Regions from separate parts of the Homo sapiens genome. Here region 1 is linked to region 2. Evidence: fine-mapped expression QTL. Tissue or cell type: prefrontal cortex. Region 2 holds a variant in brackets; the other region holds the start of a gene. All regions are shown on one strand. Distances are from middle to middle.

Region 1 (8,112 bases), 230 kb after region 2:
ATGAGGTGAATGGGGTCAAAGAAAAATTTAAGCAAATGGCCACCTAAATGCTTCTGAAATGTCAAAGCAAAATTTCACCTGTTATTTCTATAAGCAAATGCCATCAAGTTATTGAAAACTGAAGTTGAGCATTTAAATTTGATCCTAAAAAAATCATAAAGTTTAAGGAACTTTCCTCCATTTAAGGTGTTATTAATATATTTTAAGAGAAGAATTTGTTTTTGAAAGAAAATAGTTTGCATTTGCTGACCCTGATGATGAAATCTTGCTGCACAGATTTGGGAGGACTTCGTCTTTGGATTCATGCTCCTACTCTCAAATAAAGTGACTACCTTAGGTTGATACATTCCAGGGAGGGAGACCAGTTGGGACAAGGCCTAGGCTGCTCTCCTACAAATTTGCCATGAACAGGAGCCAAACTCTAAGACCTGATTCAAGTGGCCCAGCTGTCACTGGTGACACACTCAGGGGCTGGGCCTATCATGTTCTTATACAACCTAGTGAGTCAAGCTTTGGAAAATAACATTGTCAGGGAAGAACGTAAAAGTTACATTATTTGTGACAGTTCAGTAGATTAATCAACAATTTTAATTTTTATCAGCCATTTTCACCTTTCTATGCCAGAACTTGTTTCATAAAAATGAAAATGTAATAGAAAGTGCATGCCTCTATAATATGTAAAATATCTAGGCAAAATTTTGCAATTACTTTGTGGGCAATTTCTCACTCTTTTTTTTTTTTTTTTTTTGTAGTGCAATAGAAATGCCAAATGGTAACTTGTAGAAGATTTGAGTTAGTTATATTACCTGATACCTTGCAAAACAAAATGCCAAGTCATGAGTAAAATATAGTTAAATTTTATATCCTTAGCTCTTCAAGTTTATAATGTTAACGTACAATCCTAGATGAAACTTCTATATTGGACACTATTTCCCCACCAATAACTTTTGTTTATTTAAATATTTTCCTCTCTCTTACTCTCTCTTTCTCTCTTTCTCTATATGTGTACAGTCATTTCCTACAAATTGCCCAATATATCAACTTTTCAGTAATGGCACTGTGAGAAATGCTGCCAATATGCTAGGAGATAATTTGTAGTTAATCATTGCTCACTCTTTTTTTTTTCTGGCATTATTTATCTCAGTGTATACCTAACAGTTTTCTTTTTCAGGTGAACTCCAGAAATCTCAAAGTCTTGAACACACAGTTTAGAATTATCTGTTTATTGACAGAGAATTTTGAAATGTATAGGCAAACATGCTGGAATAAATCAACTAAGATGCAGATAGTAAATTTGCCGATGAGGTTTTTGAAAAATGTATTTGCAGAAAAATTTAGATAAAGTTTCTGAAAAACTTACTATGGCCTAAAATTACATGACTTAATATAAATTGTCTTGAAATTCCAATTTCTATTAACTTCTTATGGGAAAGTATAATGCAATACAAATCGTAATTTTAAAGGCTGCACATCTAAAGCTATTAAATATTTCACTTTGCAAAGTTTACCTAGCATTTATTTGAAATTATGTGCTATTGTGCGCATTTAAAATTAATCATAAATAGCACTTTTTTTAAAAAAGGTATCCTTCTATGCATAAATAATAACAACATGATGAATTTCTAGATCGTTCTTGGTATAAATGTTATTGTCTTCTCTGTATGATTACTATATCAAATAACATGAAATTTATTTGCCAATCTTCTAACCACTCATACCAGAAAAAGAATATTGTAATGATTGAGTGGATTGGTTTACTCATACAAATAATTATACATTTTATAAGAACTACAAAACATCTCCATTAACCACTGCAGTCTTTCTGATCAAACAGTGACAGATAGGAGCTGAGAGTTTAAGGGCATTTGTTTACTATGTTTGCTTGGATTTTCCGAACTGCCTTAGTTCCTGATTCCACACTGCTATTGTGTGGATCAAATAATCCCTTGTCACAAAAATACCCTGGGGAATGACTCCCCTGGCGTCCAGGTTATGAGTGTGGTCAGTCATTCCACATGCCTTAGGGATGAGCTATCTGTGCCATGACGAGCGATTTCCTTTTCGAGTTTTGTAATCCCCAAATACTAAATACTATTATCAATAAAAGTTAATTAAGGAAATGTATATCGAAATATTGTTCAAGATAGCACTGAAATTAGGTTTATCTTTCCTCATTGTCTTAAAAAATTATTACTGAATTAAAACAGGAGAAATTTTACAATATACTCTTAAAATTGTAAATATCTACTACTGACCTCTTTGATATGAACCATAACCAGACATTTAAAAATATACTTTTGTCATGTAGACACACTAGATATGCCACTTTTATTCTCCTTTGCATGGTTCAATGTATAAGAAAACAACTTAGTAGGGGGAGAAAAAAATTAAAAGCCATTCTGTAAATCTTTCCCTCTTTCTTTTCTTGCAATCTCTCATTGTATCTTGGAGAGCAAGACCACAGGTTTTAAGAAATATGACTCATTTTATGTTAGTGGCCTTCCAATACTTCAGAATATTCTTGATTTTTCATGAACAGAGGTACAGCTCAGGGAGTGTGGCTAAATCAGTCCCAGTCTCCAGCTCCGCGTGAACCTGGGATCCAGACATCTCCTGGATATCTGGCGCTCTCTGAGATCCAGCCCTCGGTTTCCTGCAAGCCAAAAGGATCCGCTAGGTTGGGAAATGCCGCCTGGTGCGATTCCAGAAAGGGCCATCTCTTTAAGGATAACGGACTTGGAGGGCCTCTTCACCCTCTCACCCTGCTCCGGACCCTTTCTTCCCATCCTTTGCTCCTAGGATTTTACATGTTGCCTGCAAAGGGAGTCAAACTTAGGGGGCAGGCAAACAAACGAGTTCTTTCCAGCCTCTGTAACCGGATCGCTAGAGCGAAATAAACTCGCACAAGTGTCCAGAGATCGTAGCCAGACAGCCAGCCTGCGCTTGAAGCAACTTTTAAGTGAGGCTGCAAGAGCCGCCGGGATGTAGATTTTAGTTCGTGGCCAAGCACAACTACGACACCCTGTCCCTGCCCCCACCCCATCCCCAAGAATGCATGGAGGAAGGAGAGAGGACGAGGTGAGGGCCGCCTGCATTTCTGCACGTCGGCGCCGGTTAGAAACCCTGCAGTTTTGAGAGAGAAGAAGAGGAGATGGAGGGGCCAGGAGCCACGACTCCCGGGAGAGCGCAGGGAGGGGCGTGGGTGCCCCTTCGCCCACCTCCGCCCCCGTCACCTCGACAGCTGTCCCGCTCTTGGAATTCATTGGCTTCCTCTACCCGGCCTCCCAAACACCACCCCAATCTAGTTTAGCCCCCCGCCCCACCCTCGCTGACCTAATAAGGCCATGCAGTGTGCGGGGGAGCTACATAAAAGCGCGGGCTCGCGGCGACTCTGCACCACGCAGGGGAAGAGAAAGCAGGAGCCGTCCAGCACGGAGGAAGGCGACCATGGCCAAGGAGTGGGGCTACGCCAGTCACAACGGTGAGTGCAGGCAGCCGCGACCCGGCCAGGAAGGGATGCCAGTCCAGGAGAGCCCTGCCATTGCACAGAAATGGGCAACTTTAGAGACTGCAGTGGAAAATGTAGGAGTAGAATAAGACCTAACATTTACTGAGGCTTTTCAACTGCCAAATGCTGCTGCTTCTTTTTTTCCTTCATCTCATTTGGTTCTCCCTAGTATGGAGTTTTTATTTCCCTTGGAGAAAACTGAAGTGCAGAGAAGTTGGATCACTTGCCTAAGATCCCATTGCCTCTGAGAAGTCAGACAGCCCGAGGTCAGGTGTGACTGGCCCTTATTCTGTTTTACTGGACAAGCACCTAACCTGAGCTTGGTGCCGGTGTGAGAATCTCTGCTCTGCCTAAGCTTCTCCCTAATCCAAGGCAAAGGAACATGGGTGTGCTCTGAAACCCACAACACAATGCTCAAATGTAGGTGGTCAATATTATTTTATTCCAACTCTATGATGGAAGGTGTCATTGGTTAAAAAAAAATGTGATAAAGTTTATCTGAAAAATAAGCCTTTGAGCAGGCAGAGTGAACACACTGAGTTAAATAGTCTCCATGTGTGCTATTCACAAAACTACCAACAGGCCTGAAATGAATGCTAAGTCTCTTATTGCCCAGTCTGAAACCTAAGACCTTTTTGAAATCACTGTCTAGCCTCTCTGTATTTTGCTGGTTTAGTCAATTAGAAAGAGGCCTTGGGTTGTGCCACCAAATAAATACATCTCCTCGACTTTATTTCCTAGGTCCTGACCACTGGCATGAACTTTTCCCAAATGCCAAGGGGGAAAACCAGTCGCCCGTTGAGCTGCATACTAAAGACATCAGGCATGACCCTTCTCTGCAGCCATGGTCTGTGTCTTATGATGGTGGCTCTGCCAAGACCATCCTGAATAATGGGAAGACCTGCCGAGTTGTATTTGATGATACTTATGATAGGTCAAGTAAGTATGACAATGAGGTAGAATCACATGGATGTTTTCAAGGTCCATATTGACAAAATGTGGTTTATGACACAGTACCAGAATTAATGGGGAGAGGGAGCACTTTATCTTTTAAAATGCAGATGACATTTGACTTTGCTTTAGTCATGAATAATTATATTTATGTATTGAAGAGGAATGTCACACCCTCCAAACTTGGTCTCTGTGAAAACGGCCCCATGTCCAAGCTAAAAGTTGGCAATGCATTCCTGAAATGGAACACGATAGGACAGAGATGACAATAAACTCAAATGAGTATTCTTCAGACTCCGATGGCCTATACCTGAGGGTTCTTGTGCTTCTTGTCCATGGTCTGGAGAGCCAGGCTTCCACTCTCAATTGCATAGATTCCATTCTACAAAGCCAGATATACAATAGAAACCCTAAATAGGCACTTTCTTCCCTTGGTGCCTGGGAGGTGACCAATCTAGGGGAGAGAACAGGGCCACTGAAGGTGTCAAGATGACTTGCCTTCAAGCCTTCAGTGGGGTTCATCTGATTAATCATTTGGGTGAGTATTTTTGAAATATCTGACAATTTCTTCTTGAGTAGTAGTTTGTGTGTGAGACAGCGACTGAAAAATACATGTTTAGAAAAAACAAATCTCTTTATTTCACCTACACTAGTAAGCAAATCAGTATAATAAAAGAAGACTAGTCAGAAATACTTTATTTCACGATAAATGAGGTAAGAAAGAATCTTCCTTTAATATTTTGGTGCTTGATATACAGCAAAATAATTCCTTATAGCCCCATCTCTAATAAAGTTATATTTATTGATATACATAAATGAACATTCTTAATGATTTTGTAATGAAGAATGATATTCATAATTCCTACCTACCAGGAGGTTCCAAGTTACAGAAATTTAAATTTTCTTAAACAGTGGTTTCGTATTGCTATTGTTTCCTTTTTTCCCCTTCTCCTTATATATCAAGTACCATTTTGAAAGCAACATAACAAAATTAAACATATCTATTAGGTTGAACCATATGAAAATGCCATTTTTGTGTGCAAAAATAGTTGAATATTGTCAATTTCATATAGTTTCTTCTAATAAATTGGACTCACATGTCCCTATAATAACTGTTCTGAGTGGTTGGACAGGAAAAATGCAATGAATTGAACCACTCCATTTCTACCTGAACAAACTCATATAGGCCTAGCCTCATTGTTTGAGGTCTATATTTATGGCTTTCCCTGGGCCACTTAGTGTGGGCAACCTCTTCTAAAATAGCTATGCTCTGAATTCTATTTTGATCTAGCTTATATTGCCAAATCTTGATCTTAGGGTTTCTGCATAGTTTCCAATATACTTTGGAAGACATTTGAACCTCTAAATCACTCTGCAATGGGTTGAGATGTTTATCAACAAGCCCAAATTAATGCTGCTGAGAATTATCTAGTTTAATCATCCACATTGATTGGTTTTCTGGGAAATTTCTGAATTTTCCATTTCATCTCATTTGAATAGACACAGTCTAAATTAGACGTAGATGAAAGTTTTTGCTCGTTGTCTTGAAGAAAAGTGTAGTTGGAAGCAACACGTGGAGAAGGAATTCACATCTGCTCAGTGATCATCATGCAGGCACTATGATGAGCACTTTAAGGTGCTTAATCTCAGTTAATCTTCACAGCAGCTCTGAAAGTTTGGTATTATTATCACCTTCTTAGAGATGTGAAAGTGGGTTCAGAGAAGTTTAGCAACTTGCCTGAGACCACAGAACTAGCAAGGGGTGAAGCCAGCATTGGAAACCTACCTCCACCTGGTTCTCAACTGTCCAGTTCTTCCCACTGCACCACACTACTGACTTGTTCTTTGGGTGTATGCATCCTCATTGTCTATCTGTTGTTTTAATTTTGCTTTCCTAAATGTTAAAATGATGTTTCAATAATAATGAAACAAGCAAACAAAATAAGAAAGACAGAAAAGAACAATCATTTATCTTGACATATCCCCAGACTTCATTTTGTGAGGAGTCCAGTGTCCTGGGAGTGGCACCATCCACCCAGCAAACTGACCACATTTTGTCCATTAAGCCTTGGCTCTAAGAGCACTTGGTTAAAGTAGAGCTCTGTAAAAGAAGCATGAATTCACTGTTGACCAAGCTTATCTGAATCACAGTGCTGAGAGGGGGTCCTCTCCCTGGACCCTACCGACTTCGCCAGTTTCATCTTCACTGGGGCTCTTCGGATGATCATGGCTCTGAGCACACCGTGGATGGAGTCAAGTATGCAGCGGAGGTAAGAGGAACTGCCATAATCCATTCTCGGTCTCATACAGTGAAAACTGCAAAATTAAAAATAAGAACCACAGCAACAAAGCATCATCCACTGCTTTTGTTTCAAGTCTATAGTTATGAAAAGAGCTGTACTAGTTTTAGCTGAACTGAAGCTGCTGAACATTCTAGGCTAGACAGGTAAAAGGGTATAGGTGAGTTGGCATCAAACATGAAGATTTCCAAGGTTATGTTAAGAAACTGGGGCGAGTGCAGTGGCTCACACCTGTAATCTCAACACTTTGGGAGGCTGAGGCAGGTGGATTGCTTGAGCCCAGGAGTTCGAGACCAGCCTGGGCAATATGGTGAAACCCTGTCTCTACAAAAAATACAAAAATTAGCCTGGCATGGTGGCATGCACCTGTGGTCCCAGCTACTCAGGAGGCTGAGGTGGGAGGATCACTTGAGCCTGGGAGGTCGAGGCTGCAGTGAGCTGTGATTGCGCCACTTCACTCCAGCCTGAGCAACAGAGTAAGACCCTGTCTCGAAAAAAGAAAAACCCTAAAAGTTAGAAATTGGATAGCTACTTAATAAGAAAGCCCAGGGTCCTCAATGGAACTGGAAAAAGGATAGCTAATACTTATTAAATGCTTACATGTATTAACTCATTAGATCCTCTTAGCTACCTTATGAGACAGGTTACAGATGAGGAAACAGAAGGCATAGAAAAGACACATAATAAAGTCACACGGCTGGTGAGTGCTAGTGCTCTACCTGATACAGACTGGCTTCAGAATTCATCATCTTATCCAGTGCCCTATACTGCCTATTTTATAAGAATATAGTGCTCTAAAAATAGCATTTAGAAATTCTGAATAATGCTTATGTTCCAATCTCTTAATGAACCGTGTGCATATATATGTGTGTGTGTATATCTATATATACACATGCATACATATTTACACACACGTAGAGATATGTGTACACACATACCATTTAATCTGAGCACATACTACTCTCTGTCTCAGTTAACTCATTAAAGAAAAACATGAATTTTAACTCAGATCAACGCATCAAATTACAAGGGTTTAAGACAGGCCTCTGACATGTTCTCTTTATAAAGCCAAACCAATAAGTGGTGGCAATTGCCTTGGAGGTGAGGACCAATTCATTTTTCCTGCTTTATTCTTTTCCAAAGATAGGCTCTGGTTAACATAGGGGCTGTGACAGAAGCTCAGAAACACACTATGAACATGTTCTTAAGCAGAATCATTAGGCATCTTAGTTCTTGGTTAAATTAAATTCTGTGAAACCCAAAGTACTTCACTGTGATCTTTCTGTTTCTTTACAGCCAATCTAGAGAGCCATGGCAAGATAAATTAAGTATTGAGAATGCCTTCTAGACATC
Region 2 (8,112 bases):
GAGAGAACTGACATTTCTCTTAAGATCCCAAATGCCTGTACAGTGAATATAGCTGTCAGTGGCACCTTCTCTGGGGGGAAGGCAGGTCCAGATTGCAAACACTGTGCTGAGCTAGGTTTTCACAGAATCAAGAAAGTAGTGATGCTCTCTGGGAGAGCTGTTAGCAATTATGCGAAGCTGGGAGAGCTGTTAGCAATTATGTGAAGCTAAATCCTGTTCATTTAGATATTTTAGATAATGTGCTGAAAATTGTCAGTAGAGACACAAATATTTGTAACTACCATGGATCTTAAAATGTGGCTCCACATTCAAAATAGGCTATTGTCTAATCCACTCTGAAAACTTCTTTGAGGTTCTCTTTGTTCTTTTGGGAACACACATCAAAAATGTGAATTGGAACTAATCAGAGGAATTGTTTGTTGAATTCATAACATGATAGCATATATTGTTTTGTTGATCTTATCTAATGTGAATGCAGCTACCAAGTTTTTGTATAATAGTTGCTAGTGCAATCTTGAGCTATTGATTCTGATTTCTTGCTGATTTTATGCTTTGTGTTAGGATGGCATGATTCATTCCTCTGTTTTCGTTATTAATTTAAAAATGTAGATATTTATTTCAAGGTATTATAAGTGTGCATATAGTTCAGAATTTCCAAGTGTCTTAATTACCAAAATAAATTGCTGAGATGTAATTCTTTAAAATTTTAAAAAATAAGTAATGCATCTTTAGATGAGACTGTTTATGAACAGAGAAATAAGATAGGAGGTGACATGGATAGGCAATTAGTAGCTCCTCCTCAGGATTAGTCCATAAGGTGACACAAAGTATTCTTATTGTGTTCTTTTATTTTTGCAGGCTTTGTGTCATGACCTTAATTTCTTTTTCTGTTCCAACATCTGCTAGCTTTTAAATGGAATAATTTCTTTGGTATTTGCAGTGTTTGGGAGATGCTTTGAACATGCTCAGCTATTGTCCCCAAGCAACTGAGTGGGTCAAATTTGAGATTGGACTTGTTGTGGATTTAATAATCAACCCTTTTTGGCTTTAAAATATGACTTGCCCTTTATTTCACTGTTCTCGTTGTCTTTCCTGAACAGGCTGCTGATACTTTGGCTGTGAGGCAAAAAAGGAGAATTTATGATATCACCAATGTCTTAGAGGGAATTGACTTGATTGAAAAAAAGTCAAAAAACAGTATCCAGTGGAAGTAAGTTACAAACCAGCACCCTCTTCTGAAACCTTTTTTCTTCTCAGTGCTCTGTAAAATTTGACCTTCCCAATGTTTCTATCTCCCAAATCCTCTATTTCAGTCAGGCCCCTCAGCTTTCCCTGAACACACCTTTCTGGGCCTCTGTGTCACTCCTGTGTTGGGTGTTCCCTTGCTCTCTTGGATATTGGGTTTTCGCTCTTAAAATTCAAATCTTACTTTCTCCCTCAAGCTATTACTCATTTGGCACACATTGCATACTGTCTTGTATTAATCTCTTCCTAACTCTTTACCTGTCCTTGAGAGCAAGAACTACTTTCATAGGAATTTGTACTTTGTAAATAGTAATTAATTGAAACGCATGTTGTCATTAATTGTGGCCTGGTTATACGTTTGAATGTAACAATTTCTGTTCTTCTAATGTGTCCCCTTTGACCATAGTTTTTGTCTTGTTTTGTTTTCGCCAAAATTCCACCAAAACATTAAAATGTTGTAATTTATTTTACCAGCACCTCAGTCACATCCTGAGACTGCTAGGTGTGACTGCTGAGCACACTCTTTTGGTACCCAGTCACCAACCAGTCTGGCCTTCCAGATGACAAAAAAACACTGTAGGGAAGATTGAGAATTTTTGTAATTTGGTTGTTCTTGTCAATAAATTTTCTAAGCAAGAAGTATGGTGTTTAAAATTTTTAAGGATTTTAGTGCTTGATTTTAAGAGTGTAAAGACTTCTGTCTTGAATATATTACTAAATAAGTCAGTTTTATTACAGTAAAAATTAAGTGATATTAACCTAGATCTGATACTGAGGATATTAATTCTCATATGTTTTTAAGAGGTGTAGGTGCTGGCTGTAATACTAAAGAAGTCATAGATAGATTAAGATATCTTAAAGCTGAAATTGAAGATCTAGAACTGAAGGAAAGAGAACTTGATCAGCAGAAGTTGTGGCTACAGCAAAGCATCAAAAATGTGATGGACGATTCCATTAATAATAGATATCCTTTTAAATAAGTTATGCATATACATATAGCTTTGGAATATGTATGTATAAATCATTTCAGTCTAAAGATCATTCACTTTGTTTTTAGACAGTTAAGTTTTATAAGTAAATATGACATTTTAATTTTATTATATTCTTATATACTAATATTTTCTAAATGTTACCTTTTTAAGTTATATAGTACAGATCCGTTAGCGTTATTCCTGTGTTGCACTGAGGGGGAAAAAGAGATTAGCCAACTTTTGGTCTACCAATTGATAGAATGCAGTATGCTAGCCAGTGTGCTTAGGAAATCTGTGAATATTAGAAGCCATTGTTAAGTACATTTGTATTTTTAAATAATTATGTTCAGTGTTCTGAAGTATAAAATTCAGCAGCTCTCAAAGTTTTGAAAATTTTTCGTTTAAAGATGAGATATGATGTGTCCACAATCAATCCTTGATACTTTCTGCCTAACATGAACCCCAAAATAGTTCCTACTGGAGAACAGGGGTCTAAGTCGTGTGTGCCTATCAACAATATATATTGGGGGAAAAACATTATTATATATAATACATATAATATCATATATAATATATAAAATATATTTATATATAATATATAAAAACATTATTATATATATAAAAACACATATCCATGTGTTTCTTACAAACCACCGTCTTCTCTCAGGTATCTGTGATTCTCTTAGTTTATGAACTTACCTGTACTCTTAAAGAAACTAACCACATTTTACCTTGTAGCACCTCATGAAATTTTGACTAATGTATACAATATAATTTACTTTTCACATTTTCATGTATTTGGTGAACAAGTCCATGATCTCATTTGTTATTTCCTTTGTATGGATCAGAGCCCCTTAACAGTTTGAGAACAATGGGAGTTTTCAAGCTGTGTTCTGTGGAGCTCTGAAATTCAAAAGCCATTAATCTATTTTATCTTGGACTT[C/T]GCTGCCCTGCTTTACGAGATGCTGGCCATTCCCATTGCCCCAACCATGGTTATGTGTGATATATATAAAGTTTTCTGTATATTATGGTATTTTGACATCTCCATAAACCTTTCTGGCTGAGGAGAGACTGCCCATCCTGGGACTAGCCACTTCTTAGAAACAGCATGGGCTCATGTCCTTTTTAGGGTCATGGATGACGCTGGAAACCATCATTCTCAGCAAACTATCGCAAGGACAAAAAAACCAAACACCTCATGTTCTCACTCATAGGTGGGAATTGAACAATGAGAACACATGGACACAGGAAGGGGAACATCACACACCAGGGACTGTTGTGGGGTGGGGGGAGGGGGGAGGGAGAGCATTATGAGATATACCTAATGCTAAATGACGAGTTATTGGGTGCAGCACGCCAACATGGCACATGTATACATATGTAACAAACCTGCACGTTGTGCACATGTACCCTAAAACTTAAAGTATAATAATAATAAAATTAAAAAAAAAGAAACAGCATGGGCTCAGCCAGGAGCATCCCTTTGATATATAAACTAACCAGTCAAGGTCCAGACCTCCTCTCTCCAGTCCATACACCCCAGGTGGCAATATTCCTCTGCCTTAATCATCCCAGGGTCAGGTACCAGACAACTGGGGGACTACCTGCATAGCTTAGAGCCCACCAAAATTATCCAAACTAGGCCAAATGCAGTGGCTCACGCCTGTAATCCCAGCACTTTGGGAAGCCAAGGTTGGCGGATCACCTGAGGTCAGGAGTTTGAGACCAGCCTGGCCAACAGGGTGAAACCCTGTCCGTACTAAAAGTACAAAAACTAGCTGGGCATGGCAATGTGCATCTGTAATCCCAGCTACCAGGGAGGCCATAGGAGAATTGCTTGAACCCAGGAGGCAGAAGCTGCAGTGAGCCAAGATCACACTACTGCACTTCAGCTTGGGCGATAGAGCAAACTCCGTCTCAAAATAAAACAAAACAAAATTATCCAGACTAGCTAATCGTAGTGTTCTCCCCACCCTGCTTTTTTTTTTTTCCTGAGATGGAGTCGCTCTGTTGCCCAGGCTGGAGTGCAGTGATGCGATCTTGGCTCACTGCAACCTCCACCCCCCGGGTTTAAGCAATTCTTCTGCCTCAGCCTCCAGAGTAGCTGTGATTACAGGTGCTCACCACCATGCCCTGCTAAGTTTTGTATTTTAGTAGAGATGGGTTTCACCATCTCTAGACTAGACTTCTTTTTTTATCTGTCCATGTGTGGCAGCCCCTCTGTGCATATGGTCAGGCTGGTCTTGAACTCCTGACCTCAAGTGATCCACCTGCCTCGGCCTCCCAAAGTGCTGGGTGGCGTGAGCCACCATGCCCAGCCACCCTGCATTTCTTTTCCCAAGGAAACCCCAATAAAAGCTCTGGGCTAATGCTTTCCCCTTGCTCCTGTCTTCTGCCTCCTGACCACCTTGTTGTCTTAACCATGTGGCCCTGAGTAGCCTGCCTTGCCTCCCGTCACTAGGACCTATGAGTATAATACTTTGTTTTTCTGAGCCTTTCTTTAATCCTCTGTGTCCTCTTGTGGCCATACCTGACCATTTAATACAAGAACAAAAAACAACGATCACAGAAAATTCCTGATGTGGAAGCTGATATGGTTGCTGATGGCCTCCTTTTCCCCATCCATTCCCTTCCCCCAGAAACCTTTGCCTCCATGAAGAATGTGCACTGCTTTCCATCTCTCTCCTAAGGGTCCTCAAATGTCACAAAAATCAGAATGGCTTCTTCTAAGAGCAAAGGATGGGAACTCCTTTGTCTTTACCTTTCTAGACTAGACTTCTTTTTTTGTCTGTCCATGTGTGGCAGTCCCTCTGTGCATATGGTCATTTAGTTATTTTGACCTTCAGATGTATTACCTTAATTTAAATGCCTACGGCTTGATATAAATGTCGTTCCTTAACTCCTATGACAGTACATTTTCCTATGTAACTCATGAAGACATCTGTAATTGCTTTAATGGTAAGTACCATTAGACTTTTCCTTGCATTCTTCCTCTCAACCTATTTAGTGGAGGGTGATTCAGAATTCCCTGTGTCCTCATCCTGTCATTATTTTCAGAAGTTGTGGGCATTGTGTCTCACTCCACCATGCCGTGTATTGATAGACTGCTTTTGTTTCTGTTTTCATGAGAATAGCTGCTTTTCACAGCATTCAGTTCATTAGCTCCACTGGTAGGGATCAACTGTGTGTGGAAGGGGAAGGGGACAGGGACAGAGGGCAAGCTAAATCAGAGCGGGATTAAGCAACTTTCATTGTCACACAGTCACAGAGTTAGTGACCAAACTTGAACTAGAACATGGTTCTCATCAGCATTGTTTATCAAACTATATGCAAGTATGCTGGTCTCAAATGAAACTCAAAGAAACCATAAGGAAAGAATTAGGTGAATCCATCTTATAACCAGGAAACCTATTCCTATGCAATTTGCTGCCCCTGTGTTTTCTCCTTAAAATAACAATATCATGTTAATAATTATAATTATTAATATAACTAAAATGGGGGGACGTGTGTTCCCAAAATTATAGCACAAGTAAAATGAAATTGTGCATATTTAAATTTATGTGTATTATCCACCTATTTAAAAAGATTCTGCCAAGTACCTCATCAAGTGGAATCTGACTTTCTATGTAAGACTATGTTGGAAATAAGTATAGGACTATTGTTCTATTTTACCACTGTATTTCCTGAGTTTTTTAAGGAAGTTTGCTGAGACTTCTGTTAATCTGCAACTCAACAGAGATTTGTTGTAGAATTTGGCTTCAAAAATAATAAAATCATTTAAGCTCAACATTTCAGTGTCTCATACCTAATCTCCACTATCCTCAGTCCAATGAACAGTGTTATTTGAGGCTAAATGGTCTTAAGAATCTCAGACTTTACAGGAGTCTTAGTCAAAGCAAAATCAACTTGAGCTGAATTTGTTAATGAGAATCATACAGCTAACCCATGTATAATACTAATACATGTATTATCTTATTTAATCCTCAAAATAAATCTATGCAGTAGGTTGTGTATCCCCCATTTTATAGAATTGAAAATCAAAGCTCAAGGTCACCTAGTTTGGGATTGAACCAAACACTCTGATTCCAGAGCCCACATTCTTGCCACTGTATTCCATGATCAACAGTATTTTATGTAACTTTTTATATTTATTTTTGACCAGGTGATACACTTTTGGCCATTCAGGCACCTTCTGGTACACAACTGGAGGTACCCATTCCAGAAATGGTATGTAGGATAACTTATGTTTATATAAGTGGGAAAAATGAATCTACTGTCTCAAGAAGGATATTTTCTTTAGCTGAATGTGAGCTAATTGTGTAAACACTGTGAGTTAGTCAAGTTTTTATCTAAAAGTATTGATAGCTGAATTTGTATGTCTTTAATTCCTTGGTAAAATTATAGAACTAAATGAATCATAAATGATTTTAAAGATTATTGGCTATATCCTTAGTCATTTATTGATATCATTTAGCTCAAAGTCAATTTTTAAAAAGTAATCAGAATGCTTTATCAAGTGATTTTTGTTTCATACAAAAATTAAAACTATTGTATAAAATTATCTTCAGGCTATGTGAATAAGGTGTGTATGAAACAAATGAATATTGTGTTTAGACTTGGGTCCTATCCCTAAGATATCTATCCCCAAGTAACCAAATGATTTAAAATGATTTAACATTTTGATTAAATTATTTTAAATTTGAATTTTTTAAGTTAGAGGATGTCAAGAAATGACTAATCATATGGCCAATAATCTATAAAAATAAGTTAAAATGACCACATTGGGCTGGGTGCAGTGGCTCATGCCTGTAATCTCAGCACTTTGGGAGGCCAAGGCAGGTGGATCACTTGAGGTCAGGAGTTTAAGACCAGCCTGACCAACATGGTGAAACCCCATCTCTACTAAAAATACAAAATTAGCCGGGCATGGTGGTGCATGCCTGTAATCCCAGCTACTTGGGAGGCTGAGGCAGCAGAATTGCTTCAACCTAGGAGGCAGTGGTTGCAGTGAGCCGAAATCGCGCCATTGCACTCCAGCCTGGGCAACAAGAGTGAAACTCTGTATCAAAACAACAACAACAACAACACATCTACAATTGATATAAAAATTGCCACTGAGGAAAAAGTTCAATGTACATATCAACAATCAATTCCTTTAAATTAGGTCTTTTATAAAACATTGTCTGGCTTATTAAGTCAAAGACATTTATTGACTCTATGAGTTTCATGATTTTCGTTTTCAGATTCAGATTTTTAAAAACAAACTAATTTGAAAGCAATAACCAAAAAAGGGAGTAGAAAAAGATTACTATATTATCTACCTCCTTCCCCCACCCGCTTATTAAAAAAGTTTACATTTAGGCATTTGTATTACTGGAGTCTGAAGCCTCAGGATACAGATTACTTTTTCAGCTGGAAGAATGTTATATTTATTTCTCAGTAGGAGAAATTAGTTGTCTTTGTGCTTGCAGATGGGAAAAAAAAGAGTTTGATTTGTGAAGCATGTTGAACTGACCAGATCTGTGGTGGCCAACTCCAGGGGATAAATTTCCTGTATATGGAGAATACCTGGAGCATTGCTGGGCCCTGACCTATTATATAGTCACACACGGTAACAACAGATGGTTGCCAGAATTCTACAACAGAGAGTTTCTAATGATCAGTATTTGTGAAAAGCTTACTTTTTAGAAACTAGTGGTTTAGAGCCCTCAAAATTACATTCTACTCTATGTCTCTACTTTTGTGTTTTGACTTAATGACTTTATTGTGTTATGTGAATTTAGTAAGTCCCTAATAGCTTTGCCTGTCTTATTGTACTGTCTTAAGTTAGCTAGAAATGTTAATAATTATACATTTGTTTATACCCAATAACTTCAAAGGGTCAGAATGGACAAAA

Direction of the effects. Positions count from the first base shown, and alleles are read on the strand shown. Sizes are in standard deviations (SD) of each study's normalised expression.
In carriers of allele C in region 2, the expression in prefrontal cortex of the gene that starts at base 3,397 in region 1 tends to be higher than with T alone (large effect, 0.90 SD a copy in BrainSeq).

The links. PIP is the estimated chance that this variant, and not a neighbour inherited with it, causes the effect.
Region 1: CA3 starts here. The variant in region 2 is fine-mapped to the expression of CA3 in prefrontal cortex (BrainSeq, PIP 0.95).

What each region holds. Positions count from the first base shown.
Region 1 is chr8:85,435,463-85,443,574 of GRCh38, forward strand. It overlaps CA3 (carbonic anhydrase 3), which reads left to right and starts at 3,397. Exons shown (of 7, transcript NM_005181.4): 1 at 3,397-3,481; 2 at 4,250-4,447; 3 at 6,611-6,729. The coding sequence starts at 3,448. It overlaps CA3-AS1 (CA3 antisense RNA 1), which reads right to left. Exons shown (of 3, transcript NR_121630.1): 3 at 6,344-6,775. RefSeq lists enhancers at 2,710-3,233, 3,234-3,756.
Region 2 is chr8:85,201,047-85,209,158 of GRCh38, forward strand. E2F5 (E2F transcription factor 5) reads left to right here. Exons shown (of 8, transcript NM_001951.4): 2 at 1,101-1,210; 3 at 2,048-2,209; 4 at 5,131-5,174; 5 at 6,379-6,443; 6 at 8,096-8,112. Among named protein-coding and RNA genes, the nearest start is that of RBIS, 15 kb to the right of the region's middle. The variant C/T (reference allele first, on the strand shown) is at 3,160.